Linked DNA regions of Homo sapiens. The protein of the gene in region 1 purifies or fractionates together with the protein of each later gene. This does not show direct contact. Each region holds a gene or a part of one and is shown in the gene's direction. Other genes may lie near its edges.

Evidence for each region.
Region 2: the proteins of TECPR2 (region 1) and VPS33A purify together in Homo sapiens (affinity purification with mass spectrometry; one large-scale study listed by BioGRID and IntAct). This does not show direct contact.

What each region holds. Positions count from the first base shown.
Region 1 is NC_000014.9:102,428,631-102,432,449, forward strand, and holds part of TECPR2 (tectonin beta-propeller repeat-containing protein 2), read left to right. Parts: intron 1-3,165; coding exon 3,166-3,498; intron 3,499-3,819. UniProt on the Homo sapiens protein: Probably plays a role as positive regulator of autophagy.
Region 2 is NC_000012.12:122,238,910-122,242,728, reverse strand, and holds part of VPS33A (vacuolar protein sorting-associated protein 33A), read left to right. Parts: intron 1-220; coding exon 221-347; intron 348-2,783; coding exon 2,784-2,851; intron 2,852-3,819.

The sequences.
Region 1 (3,819 bases):
ATGCGCCTGTGGTCTCAAGTACTCGGGAGGCTGAGGTGGGAGGATCGCTTGAGCCTGGGAGGCAGAGGTTGCTGTAAGCTAAGATTGCACCACTGCACTCCAGCCTGGATGACAGAGTGAGACCTCATCTCAAAAACAAAACCAAAAACTTACCATTATTTTGCTAAACTATTGCAACTTTATTTGAACTTGGAGGATTTGGAGGGTTTCCTCTGATTCTTTTTTTTTTTTTTTGAGATGGAGTTTCGCTCTTGTTGCCCAGGCTAGAGTGCAATGAGGCGATCTCAGCTCACCGCAACCTCTGCCTCCCAGGTTCAAGCTATTCTCCTGCCTCAGCCTCCTGAGTAGCTGGGATTACAGGCATGCGCCATTATGCCAGGCTAATTTTGTATTTTTAGTAGAGACAGGGTTTCTCCATGTTGGTCAGGCAGGTCTCAAACTCCCGACCTCAGGCGATCCGCCTGCCTCCGCCTCCCAAAGTGCTGGGATTAAAGGCGTGAGCCACTGTGCCCGGCCGCTCCTCTGATTGTTAAAATAGCATTTACAGTACATTTCTTGAAAGTCACCTACTTTAAGGCTTACATCAGATAGTCTCACATTTAGTGGAGTTGCTTTCATGGTTGTGGAAGATGGGGAGATTGAGAAAGGAGGAAGGAAAAATCAGAAACCACTTTACTGATCCCTGCTCTCCGTCTGAGACAGTATGTGGGATTAATGCTCCAAAAGACATAGATTTGCATAGAGTTTTAGAATATTTAAATCTGTCATCTGGGACATACCGTTTACCCTTAACTCAGTTCTTCCTTGTAGGATTTATTTTTCTCTGTGCTTTTGACATTTTTTGGTAATTCATACAAGCCCAAATTTTAATGAGCAAAGAATCCTAATATGTGTCCTCTTGCGGACATCCACATGCTTTATATATTTGGGTTCCTCGGGGAACTTGTTCCTCATGGTGGCAACAACAGCCATGTGGACCCCATCACCCTCCTCCTCACTACCATTACCTCTGATGTCAGAGAGGGCAAATTGGGGTGAATATTCCAAAACATAATTTGTATAAGAAGTGAATAAGCTCTGACTCTTGAGTTTATGAGCTGGGGGCCCCTCAGACAGTGTCATCAAAGGGTTAGAATGGCTTTCAGGAAGGGTGGTGACTTGGAGCCACCAGGCTAAGCTCTGGACCTCTGCTGCCCATAGAGCTTTCTGCAGTGATGAAGATGCTCCCATCTGCCCTGTCTGGTAGGCAGTCCCTGTCCATGTGTGGCTGCTGAGTACTTGCAATATAGCAAGTGCAGCTGAGAGATGAATTTTACATTTTGTTTAATTTTTATTTTATTTTATTTTATTTTTTGAGACAGAGTCTTGCTCTGTATCCCAGGCTAGAGTGCAGTGGTGCAGTCTCTGGTCACTGCAACCTCCACCTCCTGGGTTCAAACGATTCTCCTGCCTTAGCCTCCCGAATAGCTGGGATTACAGGTGTGCACCACCACACCAGGCTAATATTTTGTATTTTAGTAGAAAGGGGGTTTCACCATGCACCATGTTACCCAGGCTGGTCTCGAACTCCTGAGCTCAGGCAGTCCTCCCACCTTAGCCTCCCAAAGTGATGGGATTACAGGCATGAGCCACCGCGCCCAGCCTAAATTTTGTTCAATTTTGATCAATTTGAATTTCAATACTTACAAGTAGCTGGTGGCTGCCTATTGGACAGGGAGCTCTAGGCAAGATCTGCCATTAAGTTATGTAATCTTCAGCAAGTCGCTTCACAGCAGAGTCCTCCCCTCCAGTCTCCAGTGTACACTTCATTGCCTGCAGTCTGCCCCTAACACATGCCCTCAATAGAATGTGGGTGCTTCAAGGGCAGGAATTCCTGTGTCTTATGGACTGCCATGTCCCAGCAGCTAGCCCTGTGTCTGGCACACGGAGGATCCCCGATAAAGAGAGGATGGCGAATGGATCAAAGTGGGCTGTGGTCTTGTGTTGAGGGTACTGTAGCTGGAACTGCTCTGGCCTTGTGCCCTGTGGTGTCGTGTTGCAGAAAAGATGAGTCCACTGCAGTGGGAAGCTCACTGGCCCTTGGGCTTGGGGACAGGAGACAGGTACTCACATGCCTGTTCTCACTCTGCGGTCTACTGGCCTTGATGCTGTGTGGTAATGGACTTCTCTGTCTTGAGTTTGTTCTAATGGAAAATTACCTTTCCCTCTTCCAGGAAACTTAATTACAGGTACACATGTATTTTTCAAATGCCCTTTGAGTAATCTTAAAGTATATTCAAGGCAGAGTCTTAGTATGAAGTATAACTAAGCTGTTTTGTTATACACAGGCATCTCTCATTTGTAAATAATTTGTAAATTGAAGCGAGAAATGCTGTATTCTTAGTATTTTTTTACTTTTTTTTTTTTTTTTTTGAGACAGGTTTCACTCTGTCGTGCAGGCTGGAGTGCAGTGGCATGATCTCAGCTCACTGCAACCTCCACCTCCCAGGCTCAAATGATTCTCCCACCTCAGCCTCCCAAGTAGCTGGGACTATGGGCGTGCACCACCACACCCTGCTAAATTTTGAGACTCCGTCTCAAAAATAAATAAATAAATAAATATAAAAAGAAAGCTATGGCAAATTATTTTACTGATTTTAATATATGAGCTTCTTGAAGAACAAAAACTGTTTCTTAGAGTCTTTTGTATGATTCTTTTAGTTTTGGTGGATTTTTTTTTTTTTTTTTTTTGAGACGGAGTCTCACTGTGTTGCCCAGGCTGGAGTGCAGTGGCGCAATCTCGGCTCACTGCAAGCTTTGCCTCCCAGGTTCACACCATTCTCCTGCCTCAGCCTCCCAAGTAGCTGGGACCCCCGGCGCCCGCCACCATGCCCGGCTAATTTTTTGTATTTTTAGTAGAGACGGGGTTTCACTGTGTTAGCCAGGATGGTCTTGATCTCCTGACCTTGTGATCCGCCCGCCTTGGCCTCCCAAAGTGCTGGGATTACAGGCGTGAGTCACCGTGCCCATCCTAGTTTTGCTGGTTTCTATGAATTTAGAATCATTCAGTTCTTTAGCTGGCTGGTGCCTCTGTGACAACTGGTATTTAGGGCTAGCAAACGTGGATAAGTGCACATCAGCTCTCTCTTGGATCACCAGTGGTAAAACCAGACTCTTCTTTCTTAGTGAGAGATGGTCTGGAGATGTCTGGATGCTCAGAGCGTGTCCACGTGCAGCAAGCGGAGAAGCTGCCAGGGGCCACAGTTTCTGAGACGAGGCTCAGAGGCTCTTCCATGGCCAGCTCCGTGGCCAGCGAGCCAAGGAGCAGGAGCAGCTCGCTCAACTCCACCGACAGCGGCTCCGGGCTCCTGCCCCCTGGGCTCCAGGCCACCCCTGAGCTGGGCAAGGGCAGCCAGCCCCTGTCACAGAGATTCAACGCCATCAGCTCAGAGGACTTTGACCAGGAGCTTGTCGTGAAGCCTATCAAAGTGAAAAGGAAGAAGAAGAAGAAGAAGACAGGTACCCTCTGTAGCTGGCACACACCCATCTGGGGTTACAGTCTTTCCAGATTCTCTGGGAGTGCTGCTGCTCACTGAGTGAGCAATGCTCCATACATCCAAAAGCAGAGAACACATACATTTCTTCCCCAAAGGAGTTTTACTGCAAAATACTTCACATTAACGGAAAATACACACACACACACACACACACACTGTAAGGTCTAAATGATGACAGAACACCTGTGTGTACTCACCACCCTGCTTAAAGGGTCTCAGTTTTGTACTTTTCAATATTTATTTATGTATTTATATTATTTATTTATTTTTTGCGACAGAGTTT
Region 2 (3,819 bases), on another chromosome or scaffold:
TACAAAAATTAGTTTGGGCATGGTGGTGGGCACCTGTAATCCCAGCTACTCGGGAGGCTGAGGCATGAGAATCACTTGAACCTGGGAGGCGGAGGTTGCAGTGAGCCGAGATTGCGCCACTGCACTCCAGCCTGGGCAACAAAGCGAGAGTCCTTCTCAAAAAAATAAAATAAATAAACTATCTTCCCTGCTTGAGGCACTGCTCTCTTGTTTATTTCAGGAAAGACACAATGCTAAGACCGTGGGGGAGATCAAGCAGTTTGTTTCCCAGTTGCCCCACATGCAGGCAGCAAGGGGCTCGCTTGCAAACCATACCTCAATTGCAGAATTGATCAAAGATGTCACTAGTGAGTATCCTTTGTAATGATTGTTTCAGTCTGGGGCTACTTGCACATACAACGTTTGACACCTAGGTCATCAACACCACAATGCCTCTTCGGGAGAGTCAGCTCTGTCTTAATACCACGTGTTCTTCTCAGTGTTAATGAAGTATACATATGTTAATAGTTAAGGATATTCCAGGCGGGGCATGGTGGCTCATGCCTGTAATCCCAGCACTTCGGGAGGCCAAGACGGGCAGATCACTTGAGGTCAGGAGTTTGAGACCAGCCTGGCCAACATGATGAAACCCCATGTCTACTACAAATACAAAAATTAGCCAGGCACAGTGGTATGCATCTGTAGTCCCAGCTACCTGGGAGGCTGAGGCAGGAGAATTGCTTGAACCTGGAAGGCGGAGGTTGCAGTGAGCCGACATCACGCCACTGCACTCCAGCCTGGGTGACAGAGTGAGACTCCATCTCGAAAAACAAAACAAAAAGAATGTTCCATTTGTTGGCCAGGCATGATGGCTCACATCTGTAACCCCAGCACTTCGGGAGGCTGAGGCAGGCAGATCACTTGAGTCCAGGAATTGAAGACCAGCCTGGGCAACATGGCGAAACCCTGTCTCTACTAAAAATACAAAAATTAGCTGGGCATGGTGGCACATGCCTGTAGTTACAGCTACTCAGGAGGTTGAGGCATGAGAATCACATGAACCCTGGAGGCAAAGGTTACAGTGAGCTGAAATCACGCCACTGCACTCCAGCCTGGTTGAGCGAGACTCCATTAAAAAAAAAAAAGACTGGGCGAGGTGGCTCATGTCTGTAATCCCACCACTTTGGGAGGCCGAGGCAGGTGGATCGCCTGAGGTCAGGCATTCGAGACCAGCCTGGCCAACATAGTGGAACACCATCTGTACTAAAAATACAAAAATTAGCCAGGTGTGGTGGCGGGCACCTGTAATCCCAGCTACTCAGGAGACTGAGGCAGGAGAATTGCTTGAACCGGGAGGCAGAGGTTGCAGTGAGCCAAGATTGCACCACTGCACTCCGGCCTGGGCGACAGAGCAGGACTCCATCTCGAAATAACGAAAGAAAGAAAAAGAGAAAGAGAGGAAGGGTCCATTTTTTAACTCAAATTTTTTCATTATCATTTATATGAAAAATATTTGGAATGTAGATAAGAGAAAAAAATTATCCATAAGTTTGCCATCATAATCTGAGATGGTTAATTTTTTTAGTCTAGCTTTTTTTCTTTTTTTTTTTTTTTTGAGACGGAGTTTCACTCTTGTTGCCCAGGCTGCAGTGCAATGGCACAATCTTGGCTCACCGCAACCTCTGCCTCCCGGGTTCAAGTGATTCTCCTGCCTCAGCCTCCCAAGTAGCTGGGATTACAGGTACTTGCCACCACGCCTGGCTTATTTTCTATTTTTACTAGAGATGGTGTTTCACCATGTTGGTCAGGCTGGTCTCAAACTCCCAACCTCAGGTGATCCGCCTGCCTTGGCTCCCAAAGTGCTGGGATTACAGGCATGAGCCACCGCGGCCAGCAGCTTTTTTCCTTTTTTGAAGGATTACTTATTGGCGCATGTTCTTCCCTTGAATATTCTGTGCAGAATTGGTACAAAGAGTATATGTTGAGTATTTTGAAAGAGCTCAGAAGACATCTATTAAAGCAGACATGAGTTTGTTTGTTTGTTACAACACAGGGCTGTAAAAGCTGAGTAGGAGATTGTTTTATGAAGTATACTTCGAATCTTAAGTAAATCACAGTTATCGGAAAATCAGTCCTTTGTTTCCCTGTTCATAGGAGTGGAAACCAGTTGAAATTGGGTTGAACCTAATGATGAAAATGAAATGTTCTTGAGAAATTAGCTTTCATTCATACTGACGCTCATTCTGGGGTCTGTACTGAAATCCTAAGGATACAAAAGAGTGCACTTGTCGACTGTATCTAGTGTAACTTAGGAGTGCAGAGGCCTAGCGTTTTCCATGTTTCCTAAAAGATTTTCTTCAGGTGATGACTTGAACTTATTGCTTGCTTGCTTTTTTGCATGATGTCTGGTTTCTTTTCTTTTGAGACAGAGTCTCGCTCTGTTGCCCAGGCTGGAGAGCAATGGTGTGATCTTGGCTCACTGTAACCTCCGCCTCCCCGCCTCAAGTGATTCTTGTGCCTTAGCCTCCCGAGTAGCTGGGACTACGGGTGTGTGCCACCATACCCAGCTAATTTTTGTGTTTTTGGTAGAGATGGGGTTTGGCCATGTTGGTCAGGCTGGTCTTGAACTCCTGGCCTGAAGTGATCCACCCACCTCGGCCCCCTACAGTGCTGAGATTACAGGTGTGAGCCACCGTGCCCAGCCACATGTCTAGTTTCTGAATCGTGCTCTGTGTATAAAAGCATGCCACTCAAGTAAATTAACATTTAATTTCTAAGTTGCAAATTTGCTAATTTCATTTTAGCTTCTGAAGACTTTTTTGATAAATTAACCGTGGAACAGGAGTTTATGTCTGGAATAGACACTGATAAGGTATGTGGACAAAAAAACCTCTTTAACAAGTAATTGAAAGCTTATTAAACCTCAGATTATAGCCAGAAAACCAATTGCTTTGATTCCCATGCCTTGCCTTTTTTTTTTTTTTTTTTTTTTTTTTTTTTGAGACGGAGTCTCACTGTGTGTCACCCAGCTTGCTCTGTTGCCCAGGCTGGAGTGCAGTGGCGCCATCTCTGCTCACTGCAAGCTCCGCCTCCCGGGTTGACGCCATTCTGCCTCAGCCTCCCGAGTAGCTGGGACTACAGGCGCTCACCACCACACCTGGCTAATTTTTTGTATTTTTAATAGAGACGGGGTTTCACCATGTTAGCCAGGATGGTCTCGATCTCCGACCTTGTGATCCGCCCACCTTGGCCTCCCAAACTGTTGGGATTACAGGCGTGAGTCACTGCGCCCGGCCACTTAAATATTTTTAAGAGCAAATGCAAAATGTGCAAGTGTAGATTTTATCAAGTAACAGATATTTAACATTATTCTGTGCAAGACACTTTCTGCCATACATGGCAACATGAGACCTGGCCCCTAAAATCAAATCTTTTTAAGACTGTATTAGATAAGGTATTTGCTCTTTTGAAAGAGTTTCTTATATAACTCCTTTAAATAGCTCTATTAACAAATTTTAAATTATTCACTTTATGAAAATTCCTAACATAAAACAATTACTGATACTTTTTGCTAGATTAGTTGTTGATACTATTGAAATGGAGTAGACATCTGGTAGCCTCTCAGAAGCGTGTCCTTAGAGACAGACGTGTCCAGACAGGCATATGGAGTGACCAATTGTATTCTCAGCGGCCTTGGGCTCCAGTGACTTGGCCTGATCACTGGGGGGTGTGTGTGTGTGTGTGTGTGTGTGTATGTATGTATGTGTGTGTGGGGTGTGTGTGTGTGTGTGGTGGCCAGGGTGTGTGTGTGGCTGGGGCTAGCAGAGCTATTTCGGGGAA